Homo sapiens: one gene and its partners. The protein of the gene in region 2 purifies or fractionates together with the protein of the main gene of each other region. This does not show direct contact. Each region holds a gene or a part of one and is shown on either strand. Other genes may lie near its edges.

Region 1 (3,745 bases), on a different chromosome or scaffold from region 2:
AAGGGAGCTTTTAAAACATAGATTACCCTGTCTCCCACTCCAGAACTGCTAGGGGTAAGGTCTGGGGAATCTGTATTTCACATGGTCCCCAAGTGATTGTAACCAGCAGATGACCTCATGGGCAGGGATTTCCTACATACGAGGCTCTGGCCTCTGTGTCTTGTCAGTCAGCATTTTTAAGTACAAAGGAACCTTTCCCTTCCCAACTACAAAATCTTACCTTTCTGTTTCCCCTCCTAGAAAACTGGATCAGAACAATGCTTCTCAAAGTGTAGTCCCCAAACAAGCCGCAAACAGCATCACCTACGATCTTATCAGAATACAAATTCTCCAGCCCCACCCCAGACCTACTAAGTTAGAAATTATGGGCACGGAGCAAATGCATTCATGTGTTTTAACAAGTCCTCCCAGTGATTCTGACACCTGCTAAAGTTTGAGAACCACTGGATTCGAAAATTTCACAATTTCAAGAAAGAAGTAATGAAGAAAGACACACCATGTAAGGTAGAACCAAGTTTATTAATGACAGCCTTTATTACAATCACTCTCAAGTGTAAAAAATAAAGGGTGATTAATTAATATTTAAAACTCACTCGGACTTGCTGTTTGGCCTTTCAGTGGATGTGCCAAAGGGCAGGGATCTTGCCTGATTCTGAATCAATTGGCCAGATGGAGTTCACTGGAGAATGAGGCAATCAACAAAAAAGACAAATGATGCCAACTGGAGAGAGCTCGTGTCTTCTCCATGTTGGAAGGACATTACAAAATGGCAACTGTGGTGGGGGCAGAGATGAAGTAAGACAACCTTACAGTCGGAGTAAGATGTGAATACCTCTACCTATACAGAGACAAAAACACACACATGCAGAGCCATACACACACCCAAACAGTGAACACAGTTTTGAAAATAATTTCCTTTTTGTCCTTTCTCTGAGCAGACTGACACATTCATCGGCCACCACCATGCACCATGGGGCTGAAATGGAAAACCTCGCTTAATTTCCACAAAGTATTCTAGCTGGCTGCCCAGTTATGTGCTGGCAAATCTGTCCGCACCGAAAAATGTGCCTGTGGTTTTCCCAGAGTTCCACAGACTGATATCTGCTCCCCAGGAGGGCAACATCCGGTGGACACCAGCTGGATTAAAATCTAGAGGGCAAAACTCGTCCCTCCCACCTAAAGTGGGGGCAGGAGCGGCAGCACCAGGAAGTGGTTTCCCACTTTGTGTTACAGAGTACTTGCCCCAGTTCAACGCATTCCCCTCCAAAGTATTTGTGCTTTGATACCATCCTGATGGTTAGTCTGCAATAAGAGAACTGAAGGAGCTATGGCCATGCACTATTTTCTTTTTTTAATAAAAGCAAACTAAAACTGGAGGAAGAAAAAGAAACCATTAGAAGCTTTTGACTGGGTCAATGTTGTTTCCAAATTGGGTTTAATTCCATTCAAAGAGAAAGAAGGGGAGGGTGCAGAAAAGGCCACTCAGATCGACTCTGGAAGAGATCATCAAGACCAGGGAAGCATTTGGATGGTACAGCTGGTCTCTTCCCAGCCAGACTGGGAGGACATGCCACAACCTCCCAAGGCTGTGAACCTAGGAAATAAGTGCTGACCAAATAACATATTTCAATGTTTGTAGAAAAGCTGGCAGGAAAGGGAGATGATGGATTCAGATTCACAGGTCATGCAGATTAAGACTTAATCAAAAATTAATGCTTGAGCTGAGTAAGAAAACACTAAAATTTAAGTGGAACTGTATCATAGCTTTCACCTTTGGAAGACGAAAAACAACAAACATACAAAACAAAATGACCCAGAATATTCCAGAGTTTCCAAAAATCCAACTGCTAATTTTGGCAGGGTGAGAAGAAGGGGATATTTAACTGATACCTCTTCATTAACCTCATTTTCTCCTTGAATTTCACTGATAAACAAAGCTCAGGTCTACTTAGAAAAACGATCAGTCCTGCTAAAATACAGCCTCATGACGTCTTCCAATGCCCTTGCTCGGTGCACATGAAATACACAACTTCTCTTATAAGGAGACTTTCCAGGATAGACCAAGTGTGCTCGCCCAAGTGACTTGCTGAATACCATCACAAAATCTGAACCCAAAGATGAGTTGTTTTCTTCTTCAGATGAGAGTTGCAAGTGTTTCCTAAAATGTACATGGAGGGATGCCCACAAACCACTGCCCTCCCAGGTGAGGGGCTGAGTCTTTGAGGAGATGCACTCCTTCAGGCCATGGAACAGAAAGAAGGTGGTCCGTCCAAGGTGTGGTGAAGAGCAAAGCTGCCTCTCCCAGCCCTCCAATTACGGAAGATGAGGACAAGAATGTATTTTCTGCACATTCAAGTACATCTGGGTCCCCTACCCTCCCTTTTTTTCTTTTTTGGTAAGCATCTAACTGTCCATAAATTCATGGCTACAGTAGAGATTCACGGCGCAACGACTTTCATACTGGTTATTTTTTTTTTTAATTCTGTCAGTGAGCAGCATTTCCCAGTTTTACACTCCCCTAATGGCAGCTCCATTAGGCGAGACTGCAGGCTGCATCTGTGATTAGGTCCATGCAGCTCGAAGATCAGTTCGGCACGCGGGAGGGTCCCGAAAGCTGGGTCTGTCCAGTGTCTTGCAGCAGCGGTTGCAGGGGGTCTACCAGCTCGCCCTGACAGCTTCGATATCGCTAACCAAATTCTGGGCCAGGCATATCCCAAATATCTGAGAAAGGAAGAAAATGTGAGTGAAACAGTGACACTTGTAACTTGTTTCCCTGGCCACTGTGTCCCATTTTTTTAAATCATTGATTTTTGAAATTTAAGATGTAATTCATATGTGGTAAAAAGCATCCTTGAAATGTGTATAATTCAGGGGCTTTTAGTATATTCACAAAGCTATGCAACTATCACCACTATCTAATCACAGAACATTTCATTACCCCAAAAAGAAACCCTGTACCTGTGAGCAGTCATTCCCATCCCACCATCCCTACAGACCTAGCAACCACTAATCTACTTCCTGCCTCTGTGGATTTGCCTCTTCTGGACATTTCATATCAAGGGAATCATATAATATGGGGCTTTTGTGGCTGTCTTTTTCATGTAGCAAAATATTTTCAAGGTTCATATACATGTGCTATTAATTTATTCCTTTTGATGGTTGAATGATATTCCATGGCATGGATATGCCCCATTTTGTTTATCTACTCCTCAGTTGATGTGTATTTGCATTGCTCTCACATTTTGGCAATTATGAATAATTCTGCTATGAACATGAGCATACAAGTTTTTGGGTAAACACTTTCTCAATTCTTTTGGGTACTCCTCTAGGAGTAGAATTGCTGACTCATATGGTAGCACTATATTTAACTTTTGAGAAACTGCTAAATTGTTTCCCAAAGAGGTTGCAACATTTTCATTTCCATTAGCAACATATGAGGGTTTCGTTTTCTCCACATCCTTGCCGATACTTGTTATTGTCTGTCTTTTTTATTCTAACCGCTTTAACGAGTATGAAATATGTGGCTTTGAATTGCATTTCCTTAATGACTACTGACGTTGGCATCTTTTCATGTGCTTATTAGCCATTTTTTTTTTTTTTTTTTGAGACGGAGTCTCGCTCTGTCGCCCAGGCCGGACTGCGGACTGCAGTGGCGCAATCTCGGCTCACTGCAAGCTCCGCTTCCCGGGTTCACGCCATTCTCCTGCCTCAGCCTCCCGAGTAGCTGGGACTACAGGCGCCCGCC
Region 2 (3,500 bases):
AGGTGTTGCTATTATCCTCTTCATTACCAAGGAGGACATGGAGGCACAGAGAGTTGGATAACTTGTGCAAAGACACACAGCCTGTAAGTAGTGGAGTTAGATTTAAACTCATTCTGACTCCAGAATCTGTGTTCTTTCTGTTGTTCCTGAGCTCCAAGAGCCCCAGGATTCCTGGCCAGAAAATAAGCTTCCCCCTGTCCCCACCCATCCTCTCACCTTCCTGAGCTGTAATTAGGCGTAGGAGGTGTGCAGGGGTCTGGGCGGATGGAAGGGAGGATCGGTCCCGTTTGGTTTCTTTCTCAGCACAGCTTGGTTTTAATGCAGCTTTTAGCTGCCTTATGATTACCTCACTCACATCCAGAACTGCCAGGAAGAAGGCGGCATCCCGGCCCCTGTTTCCTGGCCCTGAGAGCCTCCTCTCAGCCCTAGGAGATCCCCTTTGACCCCCAACTCTGTCTCAGCCTCCTGGCATGAACATGGTTCTCCGTAAGACACAGGAACAAAGACTGTGGGTGGAGTGGGGCCGTGGCTGTGCTTCTCCTCAGACATTTCCAGGAAAAGCGTGACACACAGCCCCCTCCATGCCCAACAGTCCCGTTCAACATGGGGGGCCATTCTCACCGGATCTCCTTCCCCACCCTGTTCTCCTTTTCCAGAACTCCCAGGGCCCCCCACCAACCTGGGCATTTCCAACATCGGCCCCCGCTCTGTGACCTTGCAGTTCAGGCCAGGCTACGATGGGAAAACCTCCATCTCCCGCTGGCTGGTGGAAGCCCAGGTAGGGCAGGCCTGGGGCCTGACCAGCAGCCCCCGCCAGGGCACCCCGTGCCCTTGAGTGCAAAATCTTATGTGTATTTCGGCCTGTGTGAATTTTCATGTGCAGCTCTCAATGGCCCATTATACTCCAAATGCTCACACTTGCCAATGTTGTCTCCAACTCCCCCTGCCCCTCACCTGTGTACATGGAAAAACACACACACACTACAGTCCCCTCCTGGGTCGGGGGGTGCCTAGAAAAATACCCAGTTGCTGGAATATAAAAATATCCGCCTTGGCTGTACCCTGGAATCATCAGGGGAGCGTTCAGAAGCGCCAACACCTGTGCCCCTACCCCAGAAACTCTGATTCTGATTTAGCTGATTTGAGGGGCAGCCTGGGTCTCTGGAAGTACCCGGGGTGTTCAAGAGAATCACCTGGGCTGCTTGTTAAAAGCACAGATTCCTGGGCAGCACTCGAGGGATTCTGTAAGTAGTGGAGTTAGATTTAAACTCATTCTGACTCCAGAATCCAGGAATATATTGATCACAAGCATCCTGAGAGATTCTAAGGCAGGAGGGTTGAGTCACACTTGCAGTCATGTTTAGGGGCCTGGAAAGATGGTAGCCCCATATGGTGCCCTCCAGATGAGCCCTGGGTTCTGAACCAACTTCTTCCCTGGCAGGGCTTGTACTGGGGCTCGGAGCACCCCGTGTGGGCCCTGTAGGCTGGACAGGCCTAAGATCCTGCCCTTTTCCAGGTAGGCGTGGTTGGGGAGGGAGAGGAGTGGTTGCTGATCCACCAGCTCTCCAATGAGCCCGATGCCCGCTCCATGGAGGTGCCCGACCTCAACCCCTTCACCTGCTACAGGTAATGAGACTGGCCCGGGGAGAAGGCAGCAGCCTCAGGGCTGGGGGTGGGTGGGGGCTATGGCCCAGACCAGGACAGGGTTGAGAGTTGGGTGAGCTGCCCTTACCATCTTGCTCATCTCTCCCCAACCCCAGCTTCCGCATGCGCCAGGTGAACATCGTGGGCACCAGCCCCCCCAGTCAGCCTTCTAGAAAGATCCAGACCCTGCAGGCACCCCCTGACATGGCCCCAGCCAATGTGTCTCTGCGCACAGCCAGTGAGACCAGCCTGTGGCTGCGCTGGATGGTAAGGCTCCCTCGAGGGCAGGGGTGGGACCTCTCCATGAGCTTCTGGTCATTGCCTCCTAGAAGGTGCACATCAGAATTCCTACAGCTCCTTTCTCCTCTCTTTCTGTTTTCTGATGAGATGCCTGATAATCAACATCTTAGCCCAACGAACAAATGCCCCCCCGCCCGCCGATGAGAGGAAGGAGCTCAAAAATACTGTTTACTGAGCATCGCCAAGTGGCAAGCATTTTAAATTTTCATCCCATTTGATTCTCCCAATAATCTTACAAAGGATACATGATCATCCCAATTTACAGCTAAGAAAACTGAGGCTCAGAGAGGTTAAGAACTTGCCCACAGCCACACAGCTCCCAAGCGGCGGGTCTGGGGTTCAAGTGCCACTGTGGCATTCAGAGAGTGTCCCCAGATCCGGGCTGTGTGTTGAGGGTCCTGACCGTGGGCCATCCTGCACGAGGTAGTGACAGTAACACACCGAGGCTTCCTCTCCTACCAGGCGCTGTTCTGACAACAAGCCTGTGACAGCAGAGTGATCCTGGTCCCCCTTTTGCAGATGAGGAAACCGGGGCAGAAGAGAGGTCAGATCACTCGCCCAAGTTCTCCCGTATCCTCCCACGTGCTTTCATGAACAGCAGGGCTGAGGTCCCAACCCGGGGAATCTTTACCCGCAAGTCCACAGCCCTAACCATCGGGCACACTGCCGTCTCATCCTCTGGAGAACAGGCCACTTCTCCCCACCAGGCCCTCTGGAACATCGTTTCCCAGCACGTGTCCCACAGAGCAGCAATCCCAGGAGGCGTGTGGAGCAAACAAGAATTCTTAGACAAATAAATGTGGGAACAGCACCACATACCACAGCTCCATAGAGAATCCAGGAACACTAGCATAGCAGGAGCCCTCTTGACCCTGCTTCCCCAGGCCCATCTGACCACACAAACCCTTTGTTTCCACGTAAGATCTCACTCATTGTGCAAAACACAACTTGCAAACACACCACACTGTGAAGTCATTATTGCCGTTCCTGTGCGCGGACAGCTTGATGCTAGCGGCCATGAAAGCGCTTGGCGCCGTCAGTCCTCGATAAATATGAGTTATTGATTGCAGTTCCCTTCCCAGAGTGGCTGGTGCCTGAGCAGAGCTGCAGAGCTGTCTCGGCCCACCTCAGTGCCCCGTGCACAGTGTGACTATACCCACCTCCTGCCTCTTTGCTCCCAGGCATCCCCACCCCAGGCTGGCTCCCTGCTTCCTTCCTGAATCTCACTTTAAGGTTTGCAGCTACTAAAAGGTTAGAGCCTGATGCGGAGGGCAGGGACTGCATGGGGGAATAGAAAGGCAGCTGCCATGTGGCACAGGGCCCTAGACACTTCTCAGGCCCACGCTTAATGGTGCGTGGTCCATTACCTTTCCTCAGCAGGTAAAGGAACTTGCACTTAAGCCCCATCTCCGGCTCTCAGGACCATCGATTGCTATCTTAATGGTCTTTGGTCGGCTTCACTAAGTGTCTGCAGGAGGGAGGAAGCGTGTAGTGAGCAGGGGAGGTTGGGGCCGAAGGTGAGGAGTGGGGTAAAGTGGGTCAGCCTAGGGTGAGCC
Region 3 (3,500 bases), on a different chromosome or scaffold from region 2:
TACACATGCTGAAGTATTTAGGAGGAAATGAGCTCATCTCTACAACTTATTCTGAAATACATTTAATAATATGAATTGCTGCATGGATAGAGAGATGGACAGATGGACAGGTATGTGACAAAACATGTGTGGTTAAATATTAATGGTATTCCATTATATGGATATGCCAGTTTGTTTATCCATTCACCTGTTGGTGGATACTTGGACTGTTTCCCATTTGGGGCTATTAAAAATAAAGCTGCTATGCACATCTGTGTGCAAATCTTTGTATGAACATATGCTTTCATTTCTCTTGGGTAAACATGTAGAAGCACAATGGCTTGATAACATGGTTGATGTATGTTTAACTTTTTAAGAAATTGCCAAACTGTTTTCCCAAGTTGTTTAACATTTTACATCCCCAGGAGACATATTAACAGAGTTCCAGTTTTTGCACATCCTCACCACCACTTGCTATGGTCAGCAATAAAAAGGAATAAATTATTGATTGTACTACCACATGGATGAATCTCAAAATAATTATGCTGAAATAAGCCAGACTGAAAGAATACAAACTGTACAATCCCATTTATCCAAGTCTAGAAAACTCAAGCTAATATGCAGTAACAGAAAGCAAATCAGCAAAAACCTGGGGACAAGAAGGGTATAAGGGACAAGGAGGGTTAGAAGATACGGTTTACAAAAAGGCACAAGGAAACTTCTAGGTATGACAGATATGTTCATTATCATGTGATGATTGTTACCTGCATGCACATATATGCTAAAACTTATCAAATTGTAGACTTTAACGTGTATTTTACTGCATGTTAATTATACGTCAATAAAGCTGTTAATACATAATATTAATGACAGAATCTAGATAATGGGTATATGGAGAGGCACTGTAAAATCTCCTAACACTTTTTATAATAAAATGTTTCATAGTCTTTAAAGTTTTATTAAAGTATCTTAGAACATAAATATAAAAATAATACATAAGGAATTAGAATTGGTCATTAACACCAGACTGTAAGAATCATTTGTTTGGCTCCCTAGTGTATTCTGGGCACAGAAGAATGACTCCTTAAAAATCGAAAACTGTATCCTAACTGAATCTTCATCTTTTGTACTGCTTCTGGTATCATGGCGGTATCCAGCTAAGTGGCCACTAAACACATGATTCTATTATAAAGGGAAAACTGGGAGATTAACATTTCAAAAACAGAATACGTATGTTAGTTAATAGACAAGAAATCTGAACTTCTAATGTTACATAAAGATGTCAGGCATTATCAAAAAAAAATTACAAATTTGTCCAAGTATTGTGATTTCGGAGAAAACAAAATAGAGACAAAGGAGGCTAACTTAAGAAGGGGCTATGAAGTACAGGTACTTCCTGTGTTACAAATGATAATTCTATCACACAAGCCACTTTTACTACTGCTTTTGTCTATTTAAAATTCTAATACTTTTCCCCTTAATGTTCTCTTAAAATGTACCCAACTGTGCATCAAGTCCCCAGTGTCATTTGTTTAAAAAAATATTTTCATGTCCTACTCCAGATAAATAATTTATAATCTCTGGGGGCAGGTTCTGTATTCATAATAAGCACCTATGGCTGATTCTGATGCAGCCTAGCTCTTAAAGAAAATATGTGAAATGGCCGGACGCAGTGGCTCACACCTGTAATCCCAGCACTTTGGGAGGCCAAGGCAGGTGGATCACTTGAGGTCAGGCGTTCGAGACCAGCCTGGTTGACGTGGTGAAATGCCGTCCCTACTAAAAATACAAAAATTAGCCATGCATGATGGTGGGCACCTTTAATCCCAGCTACTCGGGAGGCTGAGGCAGGAGACTCACTTGAGGCCGTGAGACAGAGGTTGCAGTGAGCCGAGATCGCGTCACTGCACTCCCACCCGGGTGACAGAACGAGACTCCGTCTCAAAAAGAAAAGAAAAAGAAAAAGAAAATTGCTGGAGAAAGTTGGGAAGATAAATTTCAGATGAGTCTATGAAATATTACCACCTCTCTAACTAGATGATATATGGGAAGGGAGAATTATAAATAGAAGTGTATAAAAAGTATACCTTACCAACATCAAAATTTGCCAAGAGTCAGTCCTGGAATGAAGCTCAATTCCTTTTTCATCCCCTGTAAGACAGAGTCTTCTAGCAGTGAGTCTACTTACTGTATTGAACCCAGTACAGTAGCACTCTTCTGCTGCATTATAGTTAAACAGGTTTTTGGAAAAGTCCTCATTCATATATAAGAATGCTTCCATGGGAAAAATGCATTCTGATTTCCAAAGAATCCATCTCAGCAACAAATTTTCAGAGCACCATCCATTATTAGCAATGACTGAATACTAATTGATACTATTATAGTAACATGCTAATATTGAAATTTGCTGGATTATTTCAGAAGCCTAGCAAAAGCACACATTTACAACTACCAATAGGTCCTTCACGTTAGACCATAAAATATTATCTTAAAATTTTCCTATGCAGCATCCAGTTTCTTTTTTTTTTTTTTTTTTTTTGAGGCAGGGTCTCGCTCTGTTGGCCAGGCTAGAGGGCAATGGTGTGATCTCAGCTCACTGCAACCTATGCCTCCCAGCTTCAAGTGATTCTCCTGCCTCAGTCTCCTGAGTAGCTGGGATTACAGGCGAGCGCCACAGTACCCAGCTAATTTTTGTATCTTATTTTTTTCGTAGAGATGAGGTTTCACCACATTGGCCAGGCTGGTCTGAAGTGATCCACCCTCCCCAGTCTCCCAAAGTGCTGGGATTACAGGCATGAGCCACTATGCCTGGCCACCTAGTTTCTATTACAGAAATTTTCAAACAATGTTTTTAAAAAATCCTCCAAATTTATCAAATTACTACTTTTGAAATTCTCAAAGAATATTTTAAAAAAATACTCCAGCTATTATTTAAAGTTTCATTTATCAAAACATAACCAATTTCTATAAATAAAACACTGACATGTTATTTTATTTTATTTTGAGACAGAGTCTCGCTGTCTGTTGCCTAGGTTGGAATGCAGTGGCATGATCAGAGCTCACTGTAATCTCAAACTCCTATGCTCAAGCAATCTTCCCGCCTCAGCCTTCCAAAGTGCTGGGATTACAGGAATGAGCACCACACCTGGACAATGACTTGTTATTTTTTAAATTATTTGTTAAAGACTAAAGTTAGAGGGATCACATTACCTGATTTCTAGACTAACTACAAAGACACAGTTATCAAGACAGTGTAGTATTGGTGAAATGATAGACACACAGATTGAGACAGACTAAAGCCACACAATATTAAGTCTACTGATTTTTTTTTTACGAAATGCAAAGATAATTCAATAGAGAAAGGATCCTCTTTCTTAGCAAGTGGTGCTAAACAATTGGATATTTGCATCCACATGCAAACAAATGAACCTCAACCTTCAACACATATCACACACCTTATACAAAAAGAAATCCAAAACCTAAAACTACAAAACTTCCTTAAGAAAACACAGGAGAACATC

Evidence for each region. The genes of interacting proteins can lie anywhere in the genome.
Region 1: the proteins of SDK2 (region 2) and TSPAN5 purify together in Homo sapiens (co-immunoprecipitation; one large-scale study listed by IntAct). This does not show direct contact.
Region 3: the proteins of SDK2 (region 2) and VPS13A purify together in Homo sapiens (affinity purification with mass spectrometry; one large-scale study listed by BioGRID and IntAct). This does not show direct contact.

Annotation. Positions count from the first base shown.
Region 1 is NC_000004.12:98,469,867-98,473,611, forward strand, and holds the end of TSPAN5 (tetraspanin-5), read right to left. Parts: intron 2,722-3,745; coding exon 2,656-2,721; 3' UTR 501-2,655; downstream 1-500. UniProt on the Homo sapiens protein: Part of TspanC8 subgroup, composed of 6 members that interact with the transmembrane metalloprotease ADAM10.
Region 2 is NC_000017.11:73,396,446-73,399,945, reverse strand, and holds part of SDK2 (protein sidekick-2 precursor), read left to right. Parts: intron 1-656; coding exon 657-778; intron 779-1,516; coding exon 1,517-1,626; intron 1,627-1,760; coding exon 1,761-1,911; intron 1,912-2,463; coding exon of another isoform or gene 2,464-2,538; exon of another isoform or gene 2,539-2,903; intron 2,904-3,500.
Region 3 is NC_000009.12:77,180,534-77,184,033, reverse strand, and holds part of VPS13A (intermembrane lipid transfer protein VPS13A), read right to left. Parts: intron 1-3,500. UniProt on the Homo sapiens protein: Mediates the transfer of lipids between membranes at organelle contact sites. Binds phospholipids. Required for the formation or stabilization of ER-mitochondria contact sites which enable transfer of lipids between the ER and mitochondria.